3 linked regions of the Homo sapiens genome follow. The protein of the gene in region 3 interacts with the protein of the main gene of each other region in a pairwise test. Each region holds a gene or a part of one and is shown on either strand. Other genes may lie near its edges. The genes, in order: TNFRSF10C, CMTM7 and DNAJC1.

What was found.
Region 1: the proteins of DNAJC1 (region 3) and TNFRSF10C interact in binary tests that used the Homo sapiens proteins (3 or more experiments, as listed by UniProt).
Region 2: the proteins of DNAJC1 (region 3) and CMTM7 interact in binary tests that used the Homo sapiens proteins (3 or more experiments, as listed by UniProt).

Annotation. Positions count from the first base shown.
Region 1 is NC_000008.11:23,112,770-23,116,520, reverse strand, and holds part of TNFRSF10C (tumor necrosis factor receptor superfamily member 10C precursor), read right to left. Parts: intron 1,865-3,751; coding exon 1,751-1,864; intron 1,014-1,750; coding exon 905-1,013; intron 1-904. UniProt on the Homo sapiens protein: Receptor for the cytotoxic ligand TRAIL. Lacks a cytoplasmic death domain and hence is not capable of inducing apoptosis. May protect cells against TRAIL mediated apoptosis by competing with TRAIL-R1 and R2 for binding to the ligand.
Region 2 is NC_000003.12:32,436,812-32,440,562, reverse strand, and holds part of CMTM7 (CKLF-like MARVEL transmembrane domain-containing protein 7), read right to left. Parts: intron 1-3,751.
Region 3 is NC_000010.11:21,997,022-22,000,772, forward strand, and holds part of DNAJC1 (dnaJ homolog subfamily C member 1 precursor), read right to left. Parts: intron 1-3,751. UniProt on the Homo sapiens protein: May modulate protein synthesis.

The sequences.
Region 1 (3,751 bases), on a different chromosome or scaffold from region 3:
CTGTCTGGAGGGGGTCCCCCAAGTTCCCTCGTTGAGGCTGGGGAAGGGTCTGAGCATGCGCATTTCAGCCCCTCAGCCTCCCTGCTCTGGGGCCACAGGAGCCTTCTGTGCCGGGCACACACTGAGCTTCCCTGGGCTGCAGAGGAGGCCTGCGTTAGGAGGAGCCACACTCCAGGGGAAGGTCACGAGCCCTTGTGGCCACAAGCTGAGCCCCTTCCTCCAGTCAACCCACAGTACAAGTGATCTCTCACCCCCAACTGTCTGCTGGTTCCTCCCTATCACGGCAAACATTAGGGGGCCAGAGAAGAACAAATTACTCTTGGCCCTTAAAGCCCAAATAGGGAAAAGACAGGACTTATTGAGGGATTGGGGCCAGGGGTGAGGCCGGCTGGATTGGCTCAGGCCTTCATGGGAACTTGAAGGAGCTCCACCCACAGCCTTCTTATGACTTTTGTCGGCCGTGACCACTTTTGTCTTTATGGGTCCTGCCTGCATAAAAAATATTAAAAAGAACATTTTTTAAAACAGCTTGGTATAGCAACAAATACAACCCAGACTGGATTCAAGTGTTTTCTTCTCATTTCAAAAGGAAATCGCATTTCCTAGGTTTGCTGAAAAGGATCAAGGGATCCAGAAAGTTGCTTCTTGTGCCCAGTGAACAAGTTGGTCTGGCCAAGGGGACTCGTGCTGGGGAGGGTCTGGGAAGGGGCTGCTGCAGGGGGTAGGGGTGGGGACAGGCAGATGGACCAGGAGCGGCCACTGCAGACCCAAGAGACCCCACAGGCTCAGGGACACCCCATGGGTCTGGAGGCTCCATAGGGTCAGCGGAGAAATAGGGGTACCAGGTGACTCAGGTCTTCTCGGGTTCCTGAAAGCTGTCAGGAGCCCCTGACTGCTGTCTCACCTGCTACACTTCCGGCACATCTCTGGGGAGTTTTCATTCCGGAAGGTGCCTTCTTTACACTGACACACTGTGTCTCTGGTCATGGTGCAGGAACTTTTATGTTTTTGATCTGACAACAGAGCATAAGGTTTTGGGAATGTGTTTCCCTGATGTATCCCTCGATCTTCCTTACCACCCACCCCCTCCCACTCAGCTCAACCAAGTTCACCAAGGAGTTCTAAGGGCCAGTTTCTGCACCAGCACACTCAGGGCTCATACAGGACACCCACCCTTCAGCTGTCACCAGCACTCAGAGGAGTCATAAAAAGGAGCATAATTCATTATTTATTACATCAGATTAGGGGAAAAGCATTGTTTAGATGGCATGGTCAGTAGCAAGGGAGGTGCAAGGGCATCACCTGAGAGACTCTGCAAGGAGACGGAGGCCTTGGGGGACTTCCCCAAAGCCTGGGCCTGCTGGGGAGGAGGAAGGGGCCTGAGAACCTGAAGGCTGAGTGAGGCCGAGCACCTGCCAGGAGCACAGAGCCTGGGGGAGAGAGCCTGGCCCTGGAGCAGACCCGTGCCACTACTGAAACCTAGCCCTGTCCACTGGGCCAGGCCTTCTCTATGCTCTAATGATCCCCCCACCCTCTTGCAGCTGACAGTTTAGACGATTTCCCAGCCAGGTGGCATGCATTATAGAAAAGATTTCTTTCTATTTTTTTAATCAGTCAAATATATAATCATAGAACAGGGTGATGAAGACCAGGTTGGGCTGGAACTTGGTTCCCTGACTCATATCGGCTACAACTCCCACCTCATTGCCCCACGCTCCACCTCTGGACAAGAGGTCCACACATTCTGTACCTGATTTACAAACTGTACATGGGAAGCAAGAAGGTTCATTGTTGGAAGCGTTGGTGTAATCCACACCCTCTGTGCACGGGTTACAGGCTCCAGTATGTTCTGATCTATGAGATCCTGGGAAGGAAGAGAAAAGCCAATGAATGAGTCACCACAGAATTCCCAGAGGCTGACAGTGGTGGGGAAACTTCTTTTTTGGCCCTCACTGGAATTGAGACAGAGAAATCCACTCTTCCAGGCTTGGTCTTGTCATCCATTCAGCATCTATTACATACCTTTGACTGGCACTGCTGACAGAAATATAATACAAAATTCAAATTCTATGCAAAATTCAAATTCTATGAGAGCCATATTAAAATAGTAAAAAGAATGAGGCCAAATTAATTTTAACAATATAGTTTTAACCTAAAATATCTGAAATACTACATTTCAACATGTAATCAATACACATCATTGAGATATTTTACTTTTTTTACGCCGTCACTCACAAAATAACATCCAACCTACTGTACATGTGATCTGCCCATGCTGGTCCACCTGACCTGTTTGCTGTCCACTCACCACAGTGGCCCCCTGTCTTCGCTCAGTCTCCCCAAGCCCCCGAAACCTGGGGTTCTCATTCCTTCAGGGCCTTCTCAAGAGCACTCTTCCTGGCTCTCTGCAAGACTGGCCCTGTCCAACTTTAAATATCAGCCCAAATCACCATCCCCGAGAGGCCCCACCAACCTTGTCTATCTCCTGTCACTTAACTATTCTTCATGGTTCCCATCAGGACATCCTGACTGTTATGTATATTCATGTGTCTTTTTTTTTTTTTTTGAGACAGAGTCTTGCTCTGTCACCTGGCTGGAGTGCAGTGGCACAATCTCGGCTCACTGCAACCTCCAACTCCCTGGTTCAAGCGATTTTTCTGCCTCAGCCTCCCGAGTAGCTGGGATTATAGGCGACGCACCACCACGCCCAGATTTGTATGGAACTACAAAAGACCTCAAATAGCCAAAGTGATCTTAAGCAAAACAAACAAAAGAACAAAGATGGAGGCATCGTACTACCTGATTTTAAAACGTGTTACAAAAGTATAGTAATCAAAACTGAATGGTAATGGCACAACAATGGTAAATAAACTGATGGAACAAAATAGTGAACCCAGGTATAAATCAATGCATTTACAGTTGATTGATTGTGAGAAAGATACCAAGAACACAAAATGGGGAAAGGACAGCTCTTCAATAAATGGTGTTGAGAAAAGTAGGTATTGACATGCAGAAGAATGAAATAAGACCTTTATCTCACATCATATGTAAAAATTAATTCAAAATGGACTAAAGATTAAAACATAAGATCTGAAATGGTAAAACTACCACAAGAATACATAGGGGAAAATTTTCATGATGTTGGTCTGGGCAATGGTTTCTTGACTATGACCCCAAAAGCACAGGCAACAAAAGGAAAAACAGACAAATGAGGTTACATTACACTAAAAAGGTTCTGCATGACAAAGGAAACAATGAACAGAGTGAAGAGACAACCTACAGAATGAGGGTCAATATTCAAAAGATCCAAGATTTTGGTTAAAATCCAAAATACACAGGAACTCAAACATCTCAATAGCACACAATCAAATAATCCAAGTAAAATGGATACATGGGCGTGGGACCTGAATAGACACTTCTCAAAAGGAGACATAGAAGTGGCCAAAAAGTATATGAAAAAAATGCTCAGCATCACTAACCATCAAGTGCCAAATATCACTTCACACCTGTAAGAATGGCTATTACCAAAAAGACAAAAGGTAACAAGTGTTGATGATGGGGAGAAAAAGGAATGCTGGTACACTGTTGGTGGGAATGGAAATTAGTACAGCCATTATGGAAAACAGTATGGAGGTTCCTCAAAAAACAAAAAATAGAACAACTATATGATCTAGCAATCCCACTATTGGGTATACATCCAAAGGAAATGACGTCAGTATATTGAAGAGATATCTTCCCTCCCATATGCATT
Region 2 (3,751 bases), on a different chromosome or scaffold from region 3:
CAAGCAATCCCCCTGCCTTGGCCTCCCAAAGTGCTGGGATTATGGACGTAAGCCATTGTTTCCAGCCAGGAATCTATTTAAAATGCACAACCAATTTAGAAAAAAGATTATTTTATACACTGCCTCTCTCCTATGGAGGAGTGATTCTTTTTTTTTTGAGATGGAGTCTCACTCTGTTGCCCAGGCTGGAGTGCAGTAGCATGATCTTGGCTCACTGCAACTCTGCCTACGAGATTCAAGCGATTCTCTTGCCTCAGCCTCCAGAGTAGCTGGGACTACAGGTATGCACCACCATGCCCAGCTAATTTTTGCATTTTTAGTAGAGAGGGGGTTCCACCATGTTGGCCAGACTGGTCTTAAACTCCTGAACTCAAGTAATCTGCCTGCCCCAGCTCCCCAAAGTGCTGTGATTACAGGTGTGAGCCACCACGCCTGGCCAGAGCAGCGAGTCTTAAAGTGTGTGTGTGTGTGTGTGTGTGTGTGTGTGTGTGTATGCGTGTGGTGTTAGTGTATGGGTGTGTTAGCGTATGGGTATATGATTTTGTGTCCTATGGGACATTTGGCAATGTGTGTATATATTTTTGGTTTACACAATTTGCGGGGATGGGGGTTGCTACTGGCATTTAGTGGGTAGAGGCCCAGGGTGCTGCTAAGCACCCTGCAATAAATAGGAGAGCTCCCATAGTAAAGAGTTACCCATCTCCAGCCCCAAATGTGGCCCCTCAACTACAGTACTACTGTTGAAAAATTCTGCTATAGAAAATGTCAGTCTACAATGAGAATTAAATCACAAAATGGGGCCTGGTGCATGCCTGGCATCCCAGGCTCACGCCTGCAATCCCAGCACTTTGGGAGGCCAAGGCGGGTGGATCACCTGAAGCCAGGAGTTTGAGACCAGCCTGGGCAACAAGCAAGACCCTGTCTCTACAAAAAATACAAAAACTAGCTGGGCGTGGTGGCATGCACCTGTGGTCTCAGCAACTTGGGAGGCTGAGGTGGGAGGATCAATTGAGCCTAGGAGGTTGAGGTTGCAGTGAGCTATTATCACGTCACTGCACTCCAGCCTGCAAGACAGAGTGAAAGTCTGTCTCTAAAAAAATAAAAATCAAATCAAATCACAAAATGGATCTTACTCCAGTTAAAACAGTTGATGCTGAAATGCTCTTATTTTCTAAAGCCCCTTGTTGCTAGCCCACTATCAAGATCCTCAGCAATAGGTACAACAGCTAAAAGAGAACTCTCAGCTGGAAGCTTGAAGCAGGTATGGAGAGTGCTCTGCTTACCAGATCGAAACAGAAGAGTGTGGCTGTGACACAAAGAGTCCCTCAACATTTGTGTATTTCCCTTTGCTAATGAGCAACGCAAGTGTTTTCATTTTTTCGGTTCCTCTGAAGCTAGCCAGCCATGGTGATATAATGATTCACACCTCTGCCTTACTCAGGAGTGTGCATGATCGCCAGGGCTTTGCTGCTACGTTAGTCTTACTTCCAGGCCACATCTACATGGGGAAGTCTAGGGGTCTTCCCAGCCCCACAATGACCTCCTCAAGAACTCAAGTATCATTATTCAAGGCATGACTGAAAATGCAGATAATGTGGGATTATGCAGCGTGATTCCTAGGTAGAGAGGCAATTTTGCATCTAGTTTAATGCAGAGATTAAAATAATTTTCCAACTCGTCGTTGAAGACAAAGTTAGCTCTTTTTCATGGTGACACAGGGATGTGGAAGTTTCCCAGCCAACAAAAGGGGCCTGTGCAGGTCAGGTCTTCCTGCTCTGAGCCTCCAGGGCTGAGTACTGTGTAGTAGGAAGTACATTCCTGCTCTATCAGAAACATCTCGAACCTTTCTGGGAAACTTGCTCATGAAATAACACTTTCTGAATTCGGTTCACTGGGCCTATGGCCATCTACCATATGACTTTCTTTAGGAAAGCCCAATTTTAGAAAATCTAATTTAGCCAGAGTATGGTGTGTGCTTATGCGTGCTCCTAAAAGCTTCCTTTTTGCCCAGGGATTCATTCATTCCAACTTTAAATAGCCAGCATCTTAGCCAGCATATTAAGTTAAAAAAAAAAAAAAGATTTGACTGACATCAAACTTTTCAGAAATTCTTCTAAAGCCAGTAGGTAACTTCTGCAAATGCTGGGGCCCCCTGAATTATTTAGAAGCTTAATTCCTGGGTGACAAAATAATCTGTACAACAACCCCCTCCCATGACACAAGTTTACCATATAAGAAACCTACACAAGTACCCCTGAACTTAATATACAAGTTAAAAAAGAAAGCAAAGGTGAAGTGGAAGAAAGAACAAGACAATAGTGGGGAAAAGGCGCTGGGGTGTTTATCCCTGCCCTCCTCCCGCCAGCTCCAACCCTCTCAGGTGTCTTCGTGTTCCCAGTTAGAAAAGCAAATGCACAAACACGCCTGAATTCAGAGAGGACTGGAGGTAGGGGTTCTGACTTCAGGACGGAGTGAAGCAGCTGGGAGGCTCCTGGAAGACAGATGTTTCTGTGTAGAGTAACTTCAAAGTGATGCTGTCCAAAGGGTTCACTTGCCTCTTAAGGTGCCTTCTAGCTCCTCTCGTAACGGTTTGTTCTTTTATATTGAACTGTCATAAAAATAAAATATCTAACATAAATGTCCAGGGGTTTATTTTATTTATTTTATTTTTTTGAGATGGAGTCTCACTCTGTCGCTAGGCAGGAGTGCAGTGGCAACATCTCAGCTCACTGCAACCTCCACCTCCCTGGTTCAAGGGATTCTCCTACCTCAGCCTCACAAGTAGCTGGGATTACATGTATGCGCCACCATGCCCAGCTAATTTTTGTATTTTTAGTAGAGACAGGGTTTCACCATGTTGGCCAGGAGAGTCTCGATCTCCTGACCTTGCGATCTGCATGCCTTGGCCTCCCAAAGTGTCGAGAGTACAGGCGTGAGCCACCGCGCCCGGCCTATTTTTTTCTTTTGAGACAGAGTCTCACTCTGTCACCCAGGCTGGAGTGCAGTGGCGCTATCCCCACTCACTGCAACCTCTGCCTTCTGGGTTCAAGCGATTCTCCTGCCTCAGCTTCCTGAGTAGCTGGGACTACAGGTGTGCACCACCACGGCCGGCTAATTTTTATATTTTTAGTAGAGACAGGGTTTCACCATATTGGTCAGGCTGGTCTCGAACTCCTGACCTCAAGTGATCCACCCGTCTCAGCCTCCCAAAGTGCTGGGATTACAGGTGTGAGCCACGGTGCCCAGCCATGTCCAGGGGTTTAAAAGTAACACTGCAAGAGCCCTCAACTCAAAGCAAGGGTCCCACAGACCAGCCATGATACCACAGAATCACTGGAATTAGAATTCCAGATAAGAAACATCACTCCCTGGAACCTGTGTCCTTTCTGACTCCATTCTGTCAGAATTCTTACTAGAAAGAAGACATGATTTTTTGGAAGGAGCAGAGGGTTTAAATTTCACAAGAGATGAAGGAAGCTGACATGATCTGAGAAAAGTGATGGTCCCCTGAGGACTCTGGAACCAAACTAGTCTGGTTGCAGCTTGAGTGTACACCCGCAACCAGCCAGGTGCCAGAAAGTTTGCCCAGGTTCTCAGCCTGGCTGAGCATCCTTCCAGAAAGAAATGAGATTTTGAGGTCTACGATGAAAAATCTCTACAGAAAACTCAAGAGGCAGTTTTCAAGAGACGTCGGCTTCTGATTGGGCTGGGGAGGTGTCTGGTGGTCTCAGGACCCTGTCTCCTGCCACCC
Region 3 (3,751 bases):
AAAAATGGGGAAGCTATTATTACACAACACACATGTACAAAGGAATAGACTCCACAGAGAAAGACTGAACTACACTCAACACCACAAGCTCAGTGGATTCCACTGCAAGAATCACTGGACAAAATTGATAATCACAGTACAAATTCACCATCATTCATGAATGAAATCATCATCTTCATTTCTAAAAAGGACTGTGATGGGCTTTAGGGAGGCCCCATTAACTGGTTTTTCCCATCCAAAAAACTGAGTGGACACAGGAGTCGGGCAGACAAGAGATGAACCTTTATAACTGATACAGCTATTGAAGAATACAGGTTAAATGTGATGGCCAAATGGGCTTGCTAGCAATTTGTGCCCTCTCCTCTACATTCTAGACTTTGAGACAGTATGCTCAAGGGTAAGTCTGGTTAGGATAATTGCCTTACTGGTCTGGGCAGAGAGGTGCAAAGAGACTGATTCCCACTACTCATAGCTTTCTGACTGATCAGCTCTTCCTAATCAAGCAAAACAGAGCAAAGGCAATCACCCTCCAGTAAGGTAACTCACACCGCCATGGTAAGATGTTAGAGATGGGTCTAGTGATCAGTGGTGTTTTTTTAGGGAAGTTCCTCCCAACCATGGGGCACGGATGAATGGGCAATAATTGTCCCTCCTCTAAACAGGCTAGCTAATCTGTACATTTGAAAATACAGGCCGAATGAGCTTAAAAGGTTTATTAATTCCTATCTAAAAATTAAAATCCAAATATTTTATAAGCACATCCCTGTTCTTCTGCTTTTCTTCTGTTAACCAAGTTTCAGCATTCATTTGAATATAAGGATTTAGTTATAAAACACGAGAGAAAGAGAATGAAGCACATTTTCTAGCTACATAAATAGAAGTCTGTAATGACTGACTGGCACCATGAAGACAAATCTTGACTTCAGCATAAAGTAAATACTACAAAATTTAAGATAATTTAGCTTGTCATTATTTCAATTCACAGATTTTTTTAAATGAATATGAAGTGTTTACTGTTGGCTAGAATTACTGTATACAAAGGATAAGGAAAGTCATGGTCCCAAAAGACAATTAAAAGAAATATAGAGGCTGGGCGCAGTGGTTCACGCCTGTAATCCCAACACTTTGGGAGGCCGAGGTGGGTGGATCACCTGAGGTCAGGAGTGCAAGATCGGCCTGACCAACATGGCGAAACCCCATCTCTACTAAAAATACAAAATTAGCCAGGCATGGTGGCAGGTGCCTGTAATCCCAGCTACTCGGGAGGCTGAGGCAGGAGAATCGCGTGAACCCAGGAGGCAGAGGTTGCAATGAGCCAAGATCGCGCCACTGCACTCCAGCCTGGGCGACAGAGCAAGACTCCATCTCAAAAAAAAAAAAAAAAAAAAGAAATACAGAATTGCCACTGACCCCACAAGAAGTACAGGTGTCTGAGAAGCAGGTGCTGTTACACAAAATATAAATACTGTGCAGGAACCTATAATTTAAGATGGTAACGAAAGATCTTTCAATAGCACATCTTTTTTCCTACACTCCTCTCTCATCTTCCCCCCATCTCCTCTGAAAAGATGCAATATCCAAATTGGAGTGCCCTATTATTAAAGTCATTCTAAACATGGTATGAATGACTAATAAATCATCTGTATATACCCCCCAACAAAGACTTCTGCAACCCCTTTCTAGACTTCTAGAATGGACGTGAAATCTAAGGATACATGGAAGAAGATTCTTCTGCTGCCTGAAGGCTGTGAAAGATTACATAGAAGTAAAATCTGTTGAGTAAAAACTGTCAAGCAACTACTTGTTTGGGGAATTACAGTTTGCATTTAGTTACAATGTTTATAATGTTTGATTCAATAAATATTTAGGTGTTTACTATGTGCCTTACTATGAAGAAAATAAAAAGCTACCATCTGTCCTAAAAATGAGGCAACTAACTTGTCCAAGGTCATAAGGTGGTCTGGTCCAAGTTCTAAGTCATCTGTTATTCAGATTATAGAGCTTAGAGAGTAACTGAGTTATCTTATACCTGGTGGATAAGGGGATAAAGAAGATGCCACAGACAGTCACTACCATCTCTGCCTTCTAGTTTAGGATATGGATATCTCAAAAGAATGTTCTATATTAATTGTCTCCAATTCTTCCCTTTCATTCTCTCCTGAACCCAATCTACCCAGACTACTGAACTCACCACTTCACCAAAACAGTTCTTACTGAGGTAGCCTGTGACCGCCATACGGTTAATTCCAACGGTGAAGTCTCAAAGCTCATCTTATTTGAATCATCATCATCATTTAACCCAGCTGATCCCTTTGTCTTTGAAACACTTTTTTCACTTGACTGAAGAGAACCTTGTATTGGTTTGCCTCCTACCTTACTGGTCGTTCCTGCTCTATCTTCTTTGTTGATTCCCCTCCATCTTCTTGACTCTTTTTTTTTTTTTTTTTTTTTTGAGACGGAGTCTCGCTCTGTCGCCCAGGCTGGAGTGCAGTGGCACAATCTTGGCTCACTGCAACCTCCGCCTCCCGGGTTCAAGCAGTTCTCTACCTCAGCCTCCCGAGTAGCTGGGATTCCAGGCGCCTGCCACCACGCCTGGCTAATTTTTATCTTTTTAGTAGAAACGGGGTTTTACCATGTTGGCCAGGCTGGTCTTGAACTCCTGACCTCGTGATCCACCCGCCTCAGCCTCCCAAAGTGCTGGGATTACAGGCGTGAGCCACCACACCCGGCTCCTTGACTCTTAAAGTCTGGAATCCCCAAGGCTTATTAGCTCCCAGATCTCTTCTCTTCTCTTTTACGTTCACTCCCTTGGTGAACTCATCCAGTTTTGTGGCTTCAAGTTACTCTCTAAGTGCCTCGGACTCCCAAATTCCTATCTACAGCCCTAAACTTTCTTCTTGTAACTCTACACCTGAATAACCAATTGCCTACATACCAGCTCAACTTCAACGTTTAACAGACACCCCAAATTTAGCATGTCCGTAAACCAAATTCCTGATGTTCTCCAAACCAGGCTCCTAGTCCAGGTTTCTCCATCTCAACAAATGGCAATTGCATCCTTCCAGTTACTGAAGCCAAAAATCTTTAGAATTATCTTCAGTTTCTCTTTTTCTCTCGCATACCACATTCAAGCCATCAGTAAAATTCTGTTTGCTCCATGTTGAAATTCAATCCAGAATCTGACCATTTTGCACCACCTCCACTGCTACCACCCAGGTCCAATCTATACCACAATTATCCCTCTAAGTAACTAATGCCTCACAGACTATACTCAGTACACTAAAGAGATCATTTTGAAATTCAAGTCAAATCATGTATCTTTTCTGTTCAAACACCACCTCCCCCAACTTACTTATAAGTAAAAGCCGAAGTCCTTACAATGGCCTACAAAGCCCTACATGGTCTTCCCTTACCACCTATGACTCAGATCTTGTCTCCTATTGCTGTTCTCCCATTACTGTTTTCCTTGATCACTCTGCTCCAGCCACACTGCCTGCCTTGCTATTCCTCAAACGCTAAGCAAGCTCTTGCCTCCTGGCCTTTGTGCTTACTGTCTGCTCTTCCTTGAATGTCCTTCTACCATGCTATGGTCTGAATGTTTTTGTCCTTCGAAATTCTTATGTTGAAATCTAATCCCCATTGTGACAGTAATACAAGGTGGGGCCTCTGTGAGGTGATTATATCACGAAGGTGGAGTCCTAATGGATGAGATTAGTGTCCTTATAAAAGAAGCCCCAGAGAGCTGCCCTGC